Linked DNA regions of Homo sapiens. The protein of the gene in region 1 interacts with the protein of each later gene in a biochemical or structural test. Each region holds a gene or a part of one and is shown on either strand. Other genes may lie near its edges. The genes, in order: OTUD3 and PPARD.

What was found.
Region 2: of the proteins of OTUD3 (region 1) and PPARD, one has a biochemical effect on the other in vitro, tested with the Homo sapiens proteins (one study listed by BioGRID).

Annotation. Positions count from the first base shown.
Region 1 is NC_000001.11:19,892,331-19,896,248, reverse strand, and holds part of OTUD3 (OTU domain-containing protein 3), read right to left. Parts: intron 1,882-3,918; coding exon 1,769-1,881; intron 1-1,768.
Region 2 is NC_000006.12:35,422,531-35,426,448, forward strand, and holds part of PPARD (peroxisome proliferator-activated receptor delta), read left to right. Parts: intron 1-1,415; coding exon 1,416-1,618; intron 1,619-1,798; coding exon 1,799-2,249; coding exon of another isoform or gene 2,250-2,257; exon of another isoform or gene 2,258-2,870; intron 2,871-3,301; coding exon 3,302-3,549; 3' UTR 3,550-3,918. UniProt on the Homo sapiens protein: Ligand-activated transcription factor key mediator of energy metabolism in adipose tissues. Receptor that binds peroxisome proliferators such as hypolipidemic drugs and fatty acids.

The DNA.
Region 1 (3,918 bases):
TATTCCAATTATAACCAGAAAAAAAATGTAGGTTTCAATATCTCCATGGTGTGAGTATAAGCCTACTCTTTATTAATGAAAGAGCCCATAACCATGAAAGTAGCAACCAATGCAGTTTCAGTTCTTAAATTTTATAAGATGCTTCACTGGGGTAGGAAGACATAGGGGGATCCAATGGAAATATTAGTAAATTTATTTTAAAAAGATGTACTTTCAATGCTCAGGAATTTATGAAAGAGAACACTACAGAAATAAATTCAAAAAAAAATTTACCTATGCAGAAATGTCTTCCACAACTACCTAGGTAACTAAGAAACTTTGGGAAAAAAGTCATCAATGGAGGAAAAGGCAAGCTGATTACTGAGTTGGTAGTGAGTATTCCCCTTCAAGGTGAGGGTCATTATGCTGTGTATTCAAATGATTTTGTTAACTTCTGCAAAACAGTGTAAGTTTAAAGACAAAAAATAGAACAAAGGGGTAACCAGTATTTTTGCTCAAACATCGCCCTTGGAAAACAGAACCCCATGGAAAATATGATAGCTCTATCTGGTACCCTGATGTCAGGACATCCGCAACACTGCCCCAAAGAACACAAGCAGATACTGTTTCACTCCTGCTCCTTCTATCCCCATAAGGTAAAATTTCTCACCATCCCTGCACTATCTTACTTTGTTGTAGCATAGTTTTGTTAAAAGGACACTGTGCCAGGGACAAAAGGCTGCATTCTTTAATATGACATTCTGGAAAGGCAAAACTATAAGGACAAATCAGAGAATGGGCTACAAGAGGCTGGGTATTGGGGGAGGGGGCCAGTGATTACAAAGTACAAAGAGCCTGGAAGTAACTTTTTCGAGAGTAGACTAGTCTGTGTTGATAGTAGTGGTGGTTACATGACTGTGTTTGTCAAAACACATAGAACTGTATACTTGGAAAAGGATGAAGTTTGCTACATGTAAATTATATCCCTATAAACCTATTTTTAATCAGCAAAGGCTATGACTGAGCAATTTACAAAGGAATATATGCAGGTGTCATATGAAAAAAAGGGCACTGTTACCTTTATGCTAATAACACAGAAGTGTCCGTATATATGTGGATATGGATACATGTGTGTATGTGTTTTAAAAGTGTGTAAAAACATTGTGATATGTTCCTTTCCAGTTATGTATCAATGTTTTTATAGCCAAGTGTGTGTGAATGACAGGAATACTCACTAAAACATTAACAGCAATAACCTCTCTCTGGGTGATTGAATAAAATTTTAAATATAATTTTTAATAAAATTTTTTTCTCTTTACGAGCTTTTTCAATTTTCTAACTTTTCTACAAGTACTGTATTTTAACTTTTTAATTAGAAAAAGTGAGAAAGCGGTGAGTGGTGGAGCAGGGCAGAGTGGGTGGGGAATTAACAGAAACCACATGCTCAGTCTTTAGGAGCTGAGGTACAAAGCAACAGGCAGCACTCTGACTTTAGGGGGTGACAGCCTGTGTTTCCACACTAGGTTCTCTGTCCCCAACCTGCCCAATTAGCTGACTGTTGAATATTTATAGCATTTTAAAAGATTTCTAAATTATACTCCGGACTCCATTTGTACATAGCACAGGGATTACTTCTGAGCCATCACAAGATTTTTGTCTTTGGTTAGGCTCGTAGACCAAGTTACTCCGCATAATTCAATGTTCACAGGTCAAGCCCCTCATCTTCGGATATTCCCAAAGCTGACTTAGAAATAAGAGCTTAAGATAAATGTTTAAATAGGTGACCTACCTGCCACAAAGGGGCATTAAGTTGATGAATCACTACATTCAACTGATGATTTCTTGCAAAGGCTACAATTGCATCATTGCCAGCAAAAGTACCAGGCTTTGCCAAACTGGCCACTGCATGGAAATAGGAAAGAAAAATGACGTCTTTATAGTGGAAAAATCTAAATGCAAACATGCTTTGGTATTTACTGAGTTCCAAATAATAAGAAACAACGATATATATCTGAGAAGTCCATTAACTTTGTCAGAGTCTAGGAATTTAGCTAGTTGAACAATACAAGACTGCTACTCAGAAGAACACTAGTCATTCATAAAGCAAAGATCCATTTATTTCTTCTGCAATAAATGTTTACTGATTACTTCCAATATACTAACTCAATAAAAGGCACTAGAAACATAACAATAAACACAGTAATCTTAGCAGCTTGCATTAGTGAATGGTTGTTATGTGTCAAGCACTGATCTAATCACATCTCATAGACAAGTACTATTATACAAACCATTTTATACATGAGGAAACTCAGATGCAGAATAGCTGAAAACTGTGCCAAGGTCAAAGAGCTGGTACACAGTGGAGCTGAGGTTTCACCTACGCAGCCCAATGCCAAGGTCCTGGCTCTCAGCCACTCCATCAATTTGCCCTCGCGGAGTTCACAACCAGTGAGGGGCAAACAAGATAGGCACTAATGATGCACAAGTACTTCAGGAAGGGCATGTGCAGTAAGAATTTGGCCTTGCCCAAAGAGAGGTCTGGCCTTTATCCTGGGCTCCTGGGAGGTCACTTCTAAACCTCTGGAATTCCCAAAGGTGATGAGAGTGTCTGTTATTCATGACGGGCCTCTCCACCACATCTGGCATCAGACCTTTGTGGTGGTGATAGGGTGAGAGGGGAGACTGAGTTCAACCACTTAGACATGCAGTAAATCAATAAGCAAAACAAAACAAAACAAAAACCTCTGGACACCAAAGTTAGGGTGAGCTTCCCCAGGTGACAATATTCTATGTGTACTGTCACACACAGATGCTATGAGGAGAATATGCCCTGAGGACAACAGAAGCTTCGTGTCTGGAACCTTTCCAGACTGTCCTATGCATCTCTTCCTTTGGCTAGTAGTATTGATCTGCATCCTTTCCCCGTAACAAACCGTAACTGTTAGCATGACAGCTTTCAGTGAGTTCTGTGAGTCCTACTACCATATTATGGAACCTAAGGGAGGTTCTGGGAGACCCCAACTTGTAGATGGTACCAAAAGTTGAGGGAAGTCATGCAAGGACTGTGTTCTCGAACCCTGCAGTTTGGCTAACTCCAGGTGGTGAACATAAGCCAACGTGGAATTGAGGAGCGGGAGGTAAGGTGTATCAGAGGAGCTTCTCAACTGAGACAACTAAGCTAATACCCAAAGGACAAGGAAGAGTTAAGACAGGAGAAATGGATGATGTTCTAAGAAGAGGAGAGACAGACACGAGAGAGAGAGAGAACTCTAATATGGCAGGAACTGAGAATGCTGAGATGGAGAGGTGGAGGAAGTGAGAAAATGTTGGGGGGAATGGCAAGAGATGAGGACAGAGAAATGAGAAAATCCCAGATCATGAAGAACTAAAAAGTCTGGGCTCTATCCTGAGGTCAATAGATGAGTCATCAACAGCTTTTATACAGAGGAAAAACACATTTAGATCCCCCTCTGGCTGTTATGTAGAAAACAGACTGAGGAAATCAAGAGACAATGATACCGAACAGTATGGAGGAAATCTAAGCAAATGGCCACAGAGGTCTGATTTTACGGGGTAGTAGCAGTGAAAGAAAAACTGCTGAGGTAGAGTGATAACATGTAATGAACGGGTAAGAGAAGGGAGGAAGATAAGCATTAAGAATACTCAGGTTCTGACCTGGATACTTGTACAGTTGGGGGAAAGATGTTGCTGATTCTCTGAAGCCACAGTCTAAAAGAAAAGAATAATCCTAAAGATACAGCCAGATGCAAGGGTGACCAGGTCCTTAATAGTATAGTGAACCATTCATTTATTCACTTTATGAATGTCTACCAGATGCCGGGCACTGCCACACCGCAAAACAAAGACACACAGTCCCTGCCCTTGAGAATCTCACAGTACAACAAGGTAGGCAGCACACTGACATTAAAAACAGGTAAC
Region 2 (3,918 bases), on another chromosome or scaffold:
CCCACCTGTCCCCTCAGTACCTCTCTGAGTAAGACCCCTAGAGGACAGGGGAGAGCCTCTTGTGATCTCTACAGGCAGGTTAGCTGCTTGGCCAGCTTTTACCCAGGGATGCCCTAACTGCCTTGCATCTTAGAGGGTAGCAGTACCTGAGCCCTCCATTTGCGGCTCTCCTGGGTAATGGGGTCTGGCAGGTCTGGGTTTGACTCCTTTCTTAGGAAATCTCGGAACTGACTGAATCCCTCTCCTTACGCTAACTCCAGGAGAAGTCGAATTCGTATCCTACTCAATTACTAATGACAACAATTTTTGAGTGCTTACTATGTGAGGATTCTTATTTAATTGATCTAATAACTCAGTAAGTTTTAAAAAGTATTAGCCTCATTTTTCTGATTAAAAAAGAAAAGTGGCCAGGTGCAGTGGCTCACACCTGTAATCCCATCACTTTGGGAGGCCAAGGTAGGAGGATTGCTTGAGTCCAGGAGTTTAAGACCAGCCTGAGCAACATAGTGAGACCTCATCTCTACAAAAAAAAAAAAAAAAAAAAAAAAAATTTAGCCAGGCTTGGTGGCGTGCACCTGTAGTCCCAGCTACTCAGAAGGCTGAGGCGGGAGGATCACTTTAGCCCAGGAGGTCAAGGCTGCAGTGAGCCATGATTGTGCCACTGTACTCCAGCCTGGATGAGAGTGAGACCCTGTCTCAAAACAAAAAAAGAAAAAGGCTGGGCATGGTGGCACATGCCTATAATCCTAGCACTTTGGGAGGCCAAGGCGAGTGGATCACCTGAGGTCAGCAGTTCAAGACCAGCCTGGCCAAGATGGTGAAACTCTGTCTCTACTAAAAAAAAAATACAAAAATTAGCCAGGCATGGTGGTGGGCGCCTATAATCCCAGCTACTCGGGAGGCTGAGACAGAGAATTGCTTGAACCCGGGAGGCAGAGGTTGCAGTGAGCCGAGATCGTGCCACTGCACTCCAGCCTGGGAGACAGAGCGAGACTCTGTCTCAAAAAAAAAAAAAGAAAAGAAAAAGAAAAGTGAAGGAGTCTGCCCCAAGTCACAAAGCTAGTAAACTGCTGAGCTGGAACTCAAGCCCAGGCCTTTGTCACCAAAGTCTGTCTTACCCCAGCTAGCGTAGCTCAGTCACTCAGTAAGTTAGAGTCCTTGTGTGCTGGGCACTGTGAACAAAACAGACAAAATCACTGCTCTTGCAAAGATACACCAAAAAAAAAAAAAAATCACATCTTGTGGAGCTTGCGATCTGGAGGGGCCACCCCATCATTCCTACCTTGCTGACTCTAGAGCTTCTGGGGGCCTTAGGCTCCAAAAGGATTTGGCCCATGCACCTGTAAAGGGATGGGGATGTCAGAGGTGCTGGGGCCTGCCTGGGCTCCTTGCTGACTGCCCCCTTCCCTGTGCAGCTATCCGTTTTGGTCGGATGCCGGAGGCTGAGAAGAGGAAGCTGGTGGCAGGGCTGACTGCAAACGAGGGGAGCCAGTACAACCCACAGGTGGCCGACCTGAAGGCCTTCTCCAAGCACATCTACAATGCCTACCTGAAAAACTTCAACATGACCAAAAAGAAGGCCCGCAGCATCCTCACCGGCAAAGCCAGCCACACGGCGGTGAGTGTTGCTGCTGCTTGGCCTGGCAGCATCCTGGGCTCTGGGTCCCACTGCCGCCTGCCTGACTCCGGGAGAGCCAGGCCTTCTCCCTCCCTCAACTTCATGGTGCAGGCAAGGGACATGGGGAGCACAGGGTGGGGGTCTCCCGAGGCCTGATCTCTAACGGGGCCTGGTTTTCAGCCCTTTGTGATCCACGACATCGAGACATTGTGGCAGGCAGAGAAGGGGCTGGTGTGGAAGCAGTTGGTGAATGGCCTGCCTCCCTACAAGGAGATCAGCGTGCACGTCTTCTACCGCTGCCAGTGCACCACAGTGGAGACCGTGCGGGAGCTCACTGAGTTCGCCAAGAGCATCCCCAGCTTCAGCAGCCTCTTCCTCAACGACCAGGTTACCCTTCTCAAGTATGGCGTGCACGAGGCCATCTTCGCCATGCTGGCCTCTATCGTCAACAAGGACGGGCTGCTGGTAGCCAACGGCAGTGGCTTTGTCACCCGTGAGTTCCTGCGCAGCCTCCGCAAACCCTTCAGTGATATCATTGAGCCTAAGTTTGAATTTGCTGTCAAGTTCAACGCCCTGGAACTTGATGACAGTGACCTGGCCCTATTCATTGCGGCCATCATTCTGTGTGGAGGTGAGTGAGAGTGGGGCAGGTGGGCTGGCCTGGCACACCCAGTCGTCCTGGGGGTTGGCCCTCACTGCAGGGCACTGTGCCTGAGCTCTGACAGTGTGGGGAAGTGTCCCTGTGATCTTGGCAGTGGAACATGCAAGGCACTGACTGAGCATGCAGGATCAGCTCCATCTCATTATGTACGTAGATAGAGGTGGAGACAGGAAAAAGACTAAGCCAGACGTGGTGGCTCACACCTGTAATCCCAGCACTTTGGCAGGCCGAGGCGGGTGGATCACTTGAGGTCAGGAGTTCGAAACCAGCCTGGCCAACATGGTGAAACCCCGTCTCTACTAAAAATACAAAAAATTAGCCAGATGTGGTGGCACGCGCCTGTAATCCCAGCTACTTGGGAGGCTGAGCCAGGAGAATCGCTTGAACCCGAGAGGTGGAGGTTGCAGTGAGCCAAAATCCCACCACTGCACTCCAGCCTGGGTGACAGAGTGAGACCCTGTCTCAAAAAAAAGGAAAAGGACTAACAGGCAGTATGCTGTCATGTTAATGTGGGGTGGAAAAATTGTCTGCATTTTTTCTGCATTTTTAAAATTCCAACACAATAAATACAATAATAACTATGCTAACTAACAGTGGTCTAGAGCTTACTTCATGCCAGGCACTGTTCTTTTCATCGATGATGACTCACTTGATCCTCACAACAACCCTGTGCAGGAAGAATGTTTTGTGTCTCCATTTTACACATCAGAGAGGCTGAATGACCTGCCTATAGCCTCACAGGCAGACACAGGATTTGAATTAAGCATTGAGTCTCTTAACCACAATACTACGTTGCCTAATCGGGGGGGAGGTGGGGACAAATTGGCAAAAAACAAAAGAAGTGGATTAAGACCAGGGGTAGGGAGATTAGAACACCCAGTGGAGCATTGCTGATGGGACAGGGCTTGGTCTGTCACGGCCAAGGAGGCCTGCCGTCCCCTGGGCCAAGTCACCTCTTGGGGTGGAAGTAGGGGAGCTCCACTGCCTTTCTGAGCTCCCTGGCGTGCCCTGTGTCCCCACAGACCGGCCAGGCCTCATGAACGTTCCACGGGTGGAGGCTATCCAGGACACCATCCTGCGTGCCCTCGAATTCCACCTGCAGGCCAACCACCCTGATGCCCAGTACCTCTTCCCCAAGCTGCTGCAGAAGATGGCTGACCTGCGGCAACTGGTCACCGAGCACGCCCAGATGATGCAGCGGATCAAGAAGACCGAAACCGAGACCTCGCTGCACCCTCTGCTCCAGGAGATCTACAAGGACATGTACTAACGGCGGCACCCAGGCCTCCCTGCAGACTCCAATGGGGCCAGCACTGGAGGGGCCCACCCACATGACTTTTCCATTGACCAGCCCTTGAGCACCCGGCCTGGAGCAGCAGAGTCCCACGATCGCCCTCAGACACATGACACCCACGGCCTCTGGCTCCCTGTGCCCTCTCTCCCGCTTCCTCCAGCCAGCTCTCTTCCTGTCTTTGTTGTCTCCCTCTTTCTCAGTTCCTCTTTCTTTTCTAATTCCTGTTGCTCTGTTTCTTCCTTTCTGTAGGTTTCTCTCTTCCCTTCTCCCTTGCCCTCCCTTTCTCTCTCCACCCCCCACGTCTGTCCTCCTTTCTTATTCTGTGAGATGTTTTGTATTATTTCA